Homo sapiens: one gene and its partner. The protein of the gene in region 1 interacts with the protein of each later gene in a pairwise test. Each region holds a gene or a part of one and is shown on either strand. Other genes may lie near its edges. The genes, in order: SGPL1 and STATH.

Region 1 (7,305 bases):
GACTGCATTCTGGTTAACTTTTTTTTTTTAATCTGTCTTGTTCCATAAATGTGATTTTGGAACTATGTAATTATTTTACCTAGTTTTAAATGAACCAGGGCTCCTTGGATAAATGGCTGATTGAAGGCCTGGAGCAGGAAATGGACAAAGTGAACCTGAACCTGGAATATTTCGTCAAAAAAAAAAAAAAAAGGAAAGAAAGAGAAAAAAGGCTTTCAAAGATTACTTGGGTCATGTAAATGGACCTAGGAGCCAATATGATGTTTCCACTGGCCAAAGATGGATGAGGCAATTTGTACATCAATCTGAATAAGAGCTACAATGGATTGAGGCACACACAGCATTCCACAATTTATTCATCTGTGTCCTGTGGATAGGCATTTGAATTACTTCCAGTTTTTAGCTATCATGAATAACATTGCTATGAATATTAATGTCCATATATCCTGATATATATGTGTACTAATTTTTCTAGAGTATGTCCTAGTAGCAGAATTTCTGGGTCATAAGATATATGTATCTTCAAATTTACCAGATAAGGCCAAACTGTTCTGTGGCTATTCACTCTGGCCTCTTACAAGTTCTTCAAGAGTCTAATGGCATAGGAGAATATACTGTAAGTACATTATCATCTTCCCTCTGAAAGTCACCCTGTTCACCTCAGTACTCTAAGGGAAACTGCTGCTGTATTATGGGTGGTTCTGTTTTTAACAGTTTCAGTATTTTGCTTTGAAAATGAATGCCAGGCATATCACCTTTATTACTACTAATATTTGAACATGATGATTTTCATGGCGCCAACATATTAGAAAAACAAAACAAAAACAATGCTTCCTGGAAAAAAAAAAAGAAACTAAATTAGGTGCTCTTCGAATGGGCCCTTCAATAATTAAATCTGCAGTCTTTATAATGACTGCAAATATGATGAGTATCTGATAGGATTAGCACCTCTAGGACACCATTGCAGCATATTGAGTTAAATCTATCTATCCTACATAACCTGAGATTTCGTTTTTTCTAAAGACAACAGATCTAAACAGAAGTTTATCTATCATAGTTTACGAAAACTAACAACCATCTACTTGAAAGAACAGGTAAAACAAAGAATCCTCATGTGTTTCTTTAAATATAATGATGTCCTCCCCCTTTCTTTATGCCTAATAGCAACTAAATGAGGTTCAGTTTACAGCAAAATAATAAATTAAACTTTGGCTCAGGTAAAACCAGAAGTACACTAAAAACACTGCTGGATGGAACAACAAAAGTATACACAGATAAATAGGGGAATGGTAGGTATGCAGGTGGGGGATGAGGGAAGAAGCGGGTAGGGAGGGAAAGAGTGTAGAGAGCAGATATGGCAACATATTTACATTTAGTGAATCTAAGGTGTTCTTTAAGCCATCCTAGCAACTCAATGTAGGTTCAAAGTTTTTCAAAATAAAAAGGTGAAAATAAAAATATCTAGAAGAATATATACCAAAATGTTGACATTGTCTAGGTTACAAAATTACAAGTAACATTTAAAACTGCAGTTAATTAGGATCTTTCTACAATGATCAAATATTCCTTGTGTAGTAAAATGACCTTTCTACAATGATCAAATATTTCTTGTGTAGTAAAATATTTTTAATATTTTTTATTTTTTAAAATATAATTAATATTTATTAAAAACTCTTCTATTTTAACCTAAAAAATAAGGCTATTGGATGCCCCTTGCATATACTTACACATCCACACGAATCTGGTCCCCCATTGAACAGGGAACAAGCTATCCTCACGATTTCTGCCTCTATCTTGCGTAGTCCTGGGAAGATATCTGGATGCAGGGGGTTACTCCATGCAAAATCTCCATAAGCCTGCAAAAAAATGCAAGCAGATGTGAAATCAAAACTATTACACTATACAGGACAAAGAATCATGCACTAAACAACAGTTTCTAAGTATTAGGCACAACAATATAAACTGGAAAAAAAGATAAGATATATTCCTCAACCAAAAGATCAAAACATAGCAGAGGAGACAGACATGTAAATAAATAATTTTACAATGTGATGAGGAAAGAAGTATAAATATGGTTAAAAGCGCAGACTATAACACCAAACCGACCCAGGAGGAAGTCTAAGCTTTGCCTATTACTTTCAGCTGTGTAGGTCACATAATCTAAGGTTGTTTCTTCATACGCAGAAGTTGTTATGGTAGCTATCTTCTAGTGTTCTAGCAATAATTAAATAACATAATGCATGTGAAGCACTTAGTAGAGTGTCTGGCACAAAGCAGCTGTTGTTATCGACTGCAATATCAGGTGTGTGTACAGAGTGCTAAGGGACCCTGAAGAGGGAACAACTAACATCCTGAGTGATCTAGAGGTGTCTGCTGAGTGGAACTTTGAGAGATGAGTAGGAATCATCATTTGGAACAAGAGGAATGATGGAAGGGAAGGAAAACAACGTAAAAGCATGACACATTTAGTAAAGAGAAAAGGCAGGATTAGTGTTTATGTGGGAAATGAAGAGAAGTAGTTAAGAAAAAATAAGTGGGAGCTGGCTCATGAAGAAACTTGTATTCTCTGCTGCATAAGAACCTGAGTTTCATCCTGTAGATAATGGGAAGCTACTGAAAGATTTTAAGCACAGAAGATCAGAGCATTACACCAACTTATGCAAAACCTGCCATATTTATTTAGTAAGGGACAGTTTCATATTTATAATAATCAAACACAAAGACCTTAGAGATCATCAGTACAACCCCAATTTTATATGATGAAGTGGAGTTTCAAAAATAAATATGAGGGCCGAGTGCAGTGGTTCACAGCTGTAATCTCAACACTTTCAGAGGCCAAGGCAGGAGGATCACTTGAGGCTGGGAGTTGAAGACCAACCTGGGCAACAGAGTGAGACCCCATCTCCAACAAAAAAATACAAAAATTAGCTGGGTGTCATGATGCACGCCTGTAGTCCCAACTACTCAGGAGGCTGAGGTGGGAGGATCACTTGAGCCAAAGAGGTCAAGGCTGAAGTGAGCCATGATTACACCACTCCACTCCAGCCTGTGTGACAGAGTGAGACTTTGTCTGTAAAAATAATAAAATAAAATAAAAATAAATTTGATTAGAAATGGAAGAAGCTAAGAATGAGAATTATTTGAAGTATACATGAGACCACTGCTCATCTTGGGTCACATGATTTGAGAAAATTATGAAAGAGTTTCCCTATCTTATCTCTTCTTATCAAACAAAATCTGTCTCACCACAAAAATCTCATCTGACAGGACTACCTTCCCTAGTAATCTGCCTTCTAGACAGGACATCTGCAAAGACTGAAAACATAAATAACATTTTACTATTTTACAGACTGAAGATGTCTTTGATAATATTATACATATTCGCCTATGTTTGGGTGAAGAGAAACTTTTATGGTTTTATTGTACCAATAAGCTTTCCTTAAGTAATTTTTCTAATTACAAAAGTAAGGGAAAAAAAGGAGGTCATGTAAACTGGCACAGACCTCACAGGCTTCCCTCAAGAACTGGACACTCACCTTCACAAGGAGCTCAGTGAGCTTCTCCTCCCCACTGTACACTGTTCCAGAGGCTCTCCCCTCTTGCCAGAAGGCGTCTGCAGAGAAAGGTAAGGTCACTGGTCAGTAAGCAAGAATCTCTGGGAAGACAGGTTCTGATAAAGAAGAAACAGGAAGAAACTCCTCTGGATACAAAAGAAAAAAATGTTGAGTGGAAACCCAACAGCATTCTTATAGCAAATCAAGAAAAAAGTTCAATAGAGTTAGCACAATAAAATAAAGATGAAAAATCATTATTATCAGCAATGTGAAAAAGATATTAATAGCATTTAGCTACAATAAAGGCAATCTGATAATAATGTTGTCCTCATCCTCAACTGCCTTCTAACAGCAGGAACATTTGCCTTTGTCTATACTTATTTTTTGTTCTCTATATGGCTTTGGAGTGGCCTTTTTCTGCAATAGCTTCCTTCTTCTCTCCTTTCCTATCCAGTCCTAGGAATTTTGAGAACTATTATGAGCAGAGTTGGCAGAAGAAAGCAAAATGAAAAGTGTGAAATTTCAGCACACTATCATCAGAGATGAAACCAGCAAACAAACCACAATGAGGTATAAACCATGAGCACCCCGGTCTCAGACGCCGGCTCCCTTAAGCCAAGCCTGGAAACCCACATAAAACTAGTTACCTGCTTCCAGCAGCACACGCTGTAGCATATTCAAGATCAGGAACACAGTCAACATTGGGATAAACCTCCTTTATCCCAGTGTGGAAAGAAAAGTAAAGTTCCTGAGTAGAATATAAGATCTGACTTTCCACTTTCCTCTCTCCCCGAGACATTCTTCATTTTACCCACAAATTTGTTGATATGGGTGTCTCAGGTCCTTGTGCTACAATGCAGCTGTGCCCTATTGAAAGTGGGTAGTGAGAAAGCTATTACGGAAACACACCAACTAAAAACTGCATGGAGCCAAGGGCTCTCCAAAGCAAAGATCTTCAGCTCTTGAGAACAGAAAACTAAGTGGTAAATATACAGACAAACTCATTCTTACAGCAATCTGCCAAGCTCTGGCTTGCTGCCCGTTTGACTTTCACTCTTTCCTTAGAGGACACTGCTCTGTACTATACACAGCTTCAGACCAGTGGTCACCAGCCTTTCAAAAATAAGATAACTGGTTTCATTTCCTGTTCTTTTACTGATGCTAGAGAATACAGCAATGGACAGTGACTTAAACATTAAAGAGAAGGCAATATGATGGCGGCAACCAGGTCTCATAATCATGGAAATCTTTAACACCAGGTTTTAGAGTGCTAACCACTGCTTTATTCATCTACATCCTAGACTATATCAAATTTTGTACTATTCAATGTCAAGACCTCAACACATGTCACTTAGAAATTGTAAGGGTATTTGTCAAGGCCGAGCACAGTGGCTCACACCTGTAATCCTAGCACTTTGGGAGGCCAAGGTGGGCAGATCACCTGAGTTCAGGAGTTCGAGACCAACCTGGGCAACATGGTGAAATCTTATCTCTACTAAAAACACAAAAAATTAGCTGGGTATGGTGCCGCACGCCTGTAATCTCAGCTACTTGGGAGGCTGAGGCACGAGAATTGCTTAAGCCTGGAAGGTGGAAGTTGCAGTGAGCTGAGATCACACCACTGCATTCCAGCCTGGGCAACACAGTGAGACTCTGTCTCAAAAAATAAAAAATAAGGGTATTTGTCAAAATGCAACATGGCTCCTGGTTGGCTCCTAGAATAGAAAAAAGAACATTAGTTTAAAACAAAACATAGCAAAACAAAAAAAAACCCTGATGAACTAGAAATAGAATTTGTAGTGTAGTTAATAGCACTGTACCAATGTTAATTTTTTAGTTTTGATAAACGTACCATGGTTATAGAGGATGTTAACATCAGGAGAAGCTGGGTATAGGGAAATCTCTATCATCTTTGCTACTTTTCTGTAAATATATCAAACTAAAAAGCTTCTTTTTAAAAAGTACTTGTAATATGATCTTAATCAGTAACAAACATAAATCTGTTTGAGTTAATAATAGCAATAATGTTTAACATTTACTGAATCCTTACTATATGCCAGGCACTATAAAACATTTATACATGTATGATCTCATTTAATCCCCATAATCATCTTTTCAGGTAAGTACTGTACTACTATTACTATCCCCATTGTAGAGATACAGGAACTGTGACATACAGAAGTAACTCGCCAAAGGCATACTTTAAGTGGCAAACCAAGGTATGAATCCAGGCTGGTTCCAGGGTTACGCTCTTAAGCACCAAGCTATTTGGTCTATTTATCCATCCCATATGTGCTCATGCATACATGTGTATACACACAGACAAACACTATTAGCATTCTCAGAAACAGACAGATATACATATATAGATAGATGTAAACTATATAGACAGCTCTACCTATAGCTACATGCATAAAGATAGACACCATCTGTTTATCTTTGATAGTGGAATTATAGTGACTTATTTTCTTTTGTGCCTTTATGCAGATTTCACATTTTTACATGGATCTGTATTTCATTTGTATTACATATCTTATATTCTCTCTTCTTAAACACAAATATATTTGTTTTATTCATGCTTACAAAAGGAAATAAAAGCCAAGTTCCACTGTCTCTGAGATTTGCTTGCTTTATGGATGAAGGATGAATCTAAACATAATTTTAAAAATAGGAAATTCAACCTGTGAAACAGAGAGTAGGCCCTCCTAAACATGTATTAACCAATGATGAGTTATTCTTAACCTATGTGAACATTAAACAATGACAAAACCTGTCTCTTTAAGGAAGTAGAGAGCATGTATATGCCAAGCATCATACCCATAGAGCTGTACTCCTTAAGTTTCTCCAAAACAGCAGATGAGCTCAGACCCTGGGAGGGTAAAGCTTTCACATACTCTTTGTCCACTTTCAGGAATGACATGTTCTTGCTAATATCATCCTTGGTCTTGTTCAACTTGTCTTGAATCTCCAAAGGTAAGAAAGACAAAGTTATCCAGATGCAAGAGTACAGTAGAGACAGCAGAATTATTATGACAGTCAAGCAACTGCTCAATGCTAGGCACCGCACAAGTAACTAAACTAACATTTTTCCTAAAGATATATGGTGATATTCTGACTGATCAGCTACTTTCTGGCATGTACAATAGCCTCTTAAAAATTTGAAAAGCGAAGCTTCTCTCTAAAGGTCAAGATGCACTCAGCCGGTCGCGGTGGCTTACACCTATTATCACAGCTCTTCAGGAAGCCGAGGTGGGCAGATCATTACAGGTCAGGAGTTCGAGACCAGCCTGGCCAACATGGTGAAACCCCATCTCTACTAAAAATACAAAAATTAGCCAGGCATGGTAGCAGGCATTTGTAATCCCAGCTACTTGGGAGGCTGAGGCATGAGAATCACTTGAACCCAGGAGGTGGAGGTTGCAGTGAGCCAAGATCACACCACTGTACTCCATTCAGCCTGGGCAACAGAGCAAGACTCTGTCTCAAAAAAAAAAAAAAAAAAGTTGCACCCAATTTCCCCATAACCCTTTTCTCTGCCACATTGACATCACTGCTGCTTCACTTGGTTGGCATTGCTAAAGTCAGCACATCCTTGAGGGCAGTATTTGGACTTTGATCCTGCCTTGGCAGCAGCTACAGTGTGTGTGTAAAAGAATCAAAGGTATAACTAGGAACAGTGGCCAGAAAACTGGCCATGCTGCAGTAAAAGTGATTCTGGTCCTTGTGCAAGTGATGAGCTCCTTCAACAGAC
Region 2 (4,410 bases), on another chromosome or scaffold:
ATATGTGGAACTGAGAGCTTCTAAAAGTATCTTTAAACATGTAATGCTCTAGACAATCTGAAGTTAGAAATCTCAGGAATGAACTAGGTGCACTTGAGTGGAATTCAAGTATTAGAAGATGTCAAAGTAGAAATTTTCAAGTCATTCCTTGCAAAAACTAACTTAAAATTAGTATACAATTATTTAGCACACACTTTCTAAAATAAAGCTGCTTATTTTTAACTATAAAACAAAACTTCAGATCTATGACATGTTATGAGTTCCCAGCTTTTATTGTCATTTACTACTATGTATCACTAGGTAAAGCACTTGACTTCTCTGGAGCTCTTTCTTCTACTCTACTTCCTTCTATTTCTCCTGTCCCTTTTCTATGACATTAGTAGGAAACTGGCCATGAAAGAATAAAAATAGTTCAACTTACCTGGTAAATTCTAACAGATATTTCAAAAACTAATTTGATTATAAAATCACAGTATACCACATTATTTGTTATAAAAGGATAGGTGTCTAAAAAATAAAAAATAAAAATGTAAGGAAAACAGAGAAAAACATAATGCTTGTCTCTGTCAGTAAATAAAAGTTATGTGTAAGTAGCCTTTGAGCTGCTGAAAACATATTCTTATGAAAAAATACAAAGTTTCACTTTTCATTCACCAATGATAACCATTTACTCCCTTTTACACACAAAACAAGTATAAATCCAAATAAATTTATATTTGAATATAGCACACTAATTACAGAAAAGCATACTCTTAACTCATTTTAAAGATGTCATGAAGCAAAAATAACTAATTTAGTGTCTATCGATGATTTGCCTACATCCTGTTTACTCACAACTGTAGCTGCTGAGTTCATTTTTGTACTCAATCTGGAATTATAACATTAAGATACTAACTATTGTCTAATTTTCTGTTTTCTAAGGGAGCTGATTCATCTGAAGAGGTGAGTCATTTTCATTCACTGGAAAACTTGTTTTCAGTTTTGTCCTCCCTACATTTGTATTGAATTATTAAACTTTTCTTCATTTTTCACAGAAATTTTTGCGTAGAATTGGAAGATTCGGTGTAAGTGTTCTCTGATAATGCTGTGTAGTCCAAATAAATTGTGTTCTCTGATTACTTATTCTTCTAGAAGAACCAATACTTATTTCTCAAATATGTGTAGTAGTTGCAAAAGTGTGCTTTGTTTTCCTCTATTTATGATACACAGGTAACAGTCACAAATGTATTGTGTCCTAACAACATTTAAGTTGAAACTCATAGTGCCAACCTGAAGAAACCAGTTACTCCCTGAGCCCTCAAGTATCATCTCCTAAGTAATCACTTTGACCTAAAAAATAGTTGAAATTCTAATTCTGTTAATTATAATATATGCCTCATGGAGCATAAAGGCTGATAATTACACATAAAATATGGTAAGTTTGCACCTTCTGATTTTTTTTGACGGTGATAAACTCATTAAATTAAACAGGTCATGATAAATGAGATAGCAAATTTCATTTATTTAACATTTTTCTTAATGTATGTATCTTGATGTCCCAGTATGTTGACATATAATGTCAATGTGATAGGGTTGCAAAAGATCCCCTAACTAATATAGTGAATACATGGATTAAAATAACACCAAATAAAAAGATACTCTAAAAGGGATGATGGTTATTTGTGTTAACAGAAGGAAGAAGTATTAAGGAATGTAGGAATCGTAAGAGACAGTAAGCTCATTAAAAGAGTGACTTGAAGAAACACCACATAAGCTGAATTTAGTAAATGTCTCCTTCCCATAATACTCAAAGGTGGGCAAAATGGTTGCTGGGAGGTAGTATTTTGAAGAAAATTTAAAACCTCTTTGGAGTGATAGCCTATAATCGGTGTTCCTGCATGTGAAATAAAACCACAAAACTGTGAACATGCAGTACAAAGGTAAACACTCAATCATTTTTACCTGCTTTTAAAATGTGTTTATAACCAAAAAGAAAAATCTAATTGAAAGTTTGGAAAAAAATCTTATAAGTAATATGTAAGTTCCTAAAACTTTAACAATCTAAGCTTCTAATAAAAACGCTTGCACTGTCATTATCTCAATTTTCTGCAATTTTCTTTCTCCTTGTGTGTATACAGTATGGGTATGGCCCTTATCAGCCAGTTCCAGAACAACCACTATACCCACAACCATACCAACCACAATACCAACAATATACCTTTTAATATCATCAGTAACTGCAGGACATGATTATTGAGGTAAGATGGGTTTAGTGACATTTTTTTTACTTTCTGTATCAGTGCTGACAGTTAAAAGAAGAAAAACAAAAACAAGACATTAAACCAACAGCAGTTCCAGTATAAGAAAGCAGCCAGCTGTATAGCTCCTTGAAATGTATTAATTTATATAAATGCTTCTGAGATAGTCTCTGTCCTGCTATGGTTAGAAGGCAGTGTTATAGAGTGGGGGACACCAGGGTTTGTATGCTGGCCCTGACAACTACTAGTTTCATGACTTTGAACTACTCCTAATGCTCCTGAACCTCAGTTTTCTCGTCAAAAAATTGTGTATTATGATAACACTTAAATGTGCTTTTTAGAATTGGTGACACTTTTGAAAGACATATCACATAAAATCTCTTGATCAGAAAGGTTTGTAGTTATAACTGCAGGGCTTCCCTGCCACTAAATCTGTACCTAGGTGTTGCTTAAAGTTTTCACTCCCAAAATGCAATCTTTGGAGAAGCTTCCATCTGGGAACCATCTGGGAACTTGTGAGAAATTTGCATTTTGTACCCTAAGTAACTCTACTGAGCAATTACTATAGAAATTATTAACATAATGCTAACAAGAAAATATGGAAATGTTATCAATTTCTTTTTAGAAAGTCAGTTTTACCTATCTCTACACAACATTAAATGTTCTAAATTCTATGAAAAAATAATATTTCAAAACAAAATAGAGCAAACTCTTGGAGATAAGGGAGGATTGTTCTACAAAGTTAAAATAGTCCAAAGGATTTCAATTATTTTTCAGTGCATTTGGGAGATTATATTCCAATTCAATTCTCTATTGCCATTAGTGATACAGGGAAGAGCCTGAACTTGATCCCCTAGGTTTTAGGTAATAGCTGATGACATTTAATCAAGAAAAGATGTATTGAAATATTATTTAGAGGAAATGCATATAAATGAAATGTGTAGGCTATATTTAAGTAGAAGAATAAAATAGTATGATGATTGAAAAATAATTTAAATTGTAGATGCTGAATGATAATTTTTATTTATTCAGGAACCAATTTAATAATTGTTTAATTGTCTACTCTGTGTCAAATATTATTTTGGGCCCTGCATTTTATAAACTATAATTGTATATAATATCTACTCTGTACCAGGCCAGAATATAAATGTGTTTACAGGGGTAAAAATTTTACAGATAATCTGTTATTTTTTTTTTTCTGTGCAGGCTTGATTGGCAAATACGACTTCTACATCCATATTCTCATCTTTCATACCATATCACACTACTACCACTTTTTGAAGAATCATCAAAGAGCAATGCAAATGAAAAACACTATAATTTACTGTATACTCTTTGTTTCAGGATACTTGCCTTTTCAATTGTCACTTGATGATATAATTGCAATTTAAACTGTTAAGCTGTGTTCAGTACTGTTTCTGAATAATAGAAATCACTTCTCTAAAAGCAATAAATTTCAAGCACATTTTTACATGTATGCTCCTTATTTTTCTCTTTTCTATTTATAGGAATAATGATTTCTTTCATCATCTTCTTTCCCAGTTTGACTAGCACAGATTGAAGCCCATAATGTCAGAGGTCCTTATTTATAATTTAGTCTGTCATATTTTATATGTTACAAACATGGTACTCAAACTCACTTATTATTAGAGCTATTTATGCCAAGATTTGATTTGCCCATGGTTTCCTTTGCCACACCACAGTTGCTAAGCCTCCAAAGCACTCACATTTTTTATCTCAGTCCCTGTAGGTCAGAAGATAACCACCATGTCACTCTACAGCAGTATGTAGGCACTCTGCATGTAAACCATCTAATGCCCTCCATTAGTTTTTCAGCAATGACTTTTATTCAAGAAATATTTATTGAATGACCCCAGCTGTCAGGTCCTCTTCTAGATGCTGCAGACAAAGAGAGACAAAAGTCCTGTCTTTGGAGAGTTTACATTGTAGTTGGGAGATGCAGATACAAAGTAAATAAATAGTACATATCTTAGGCAATGATAAGTGTGCTAAAGAAGTATAAGCATGTCTAGGGCACAGAAACAAATTTAAACAGGATAGTCAACAAGAGACTCTCTGACATAGTGACATTTTATGAAAGATATGAACTAAGCATGAGAGCGAATATGGAGAAATAAATTTTCCAGCAGAAAATAGCAAATGCAAATTTATT

What was found.
Region 2: the proteins of SGPL1 (region 1) and STATH interact in binary tests that used the Homo sapiens proteins (3 or more experiments, as listed by UniProt).

What each region holds. Positions count from the first base shown.
Region 1 is NC_000010.11:70,853,922-70,861,226, reverse strand, and holds part of SGPL1 (sphingosine-1-phosphate lyase 1), read right to left. Parts: intron 6,520-7,305; coding exon 6,372-6,519; intron 5,440-6,371; coding exon of another isoform or gene 5,407-5,439; intron 3,614-5,406; coding exon 3,537-3,613; intron 1,857-3,536; coding exon 1,728-1,856; intron 1-1,727. UniProt on the Homo sapiens protein: Cleaves phosphorylated sphingoid bases (PSBs), such as sphingosine-1-phosphate, into fatty aldehydes and phosphoethanolamine. Elevates stress-induced ceramide production and apoptosis.
Region 2 is NC_000004.12:69,998,746-70,003,155, forward strand, and holds the end of STATH (statherin isoform a precursor), read left to right. Parts: intron 1-921; coding exon 922-942; intron 943-1,034; coding exon 1,035-1,064; intron 1,065-2,117; coding exon 2,118-2,204; 3' UTR 2,205-2,237; intron 2,238-3,443; 3' UTR 3,444-3,825; downstream 3,826-4,410. UniProt on the Homo sapiens protein: Salivary protein that stabilizes saliva supersaturated with calcium salts by inhibiting the precipitation of calcium phosphate salts. It also modulates hydroxyapatite crystal formation on the tooth surface.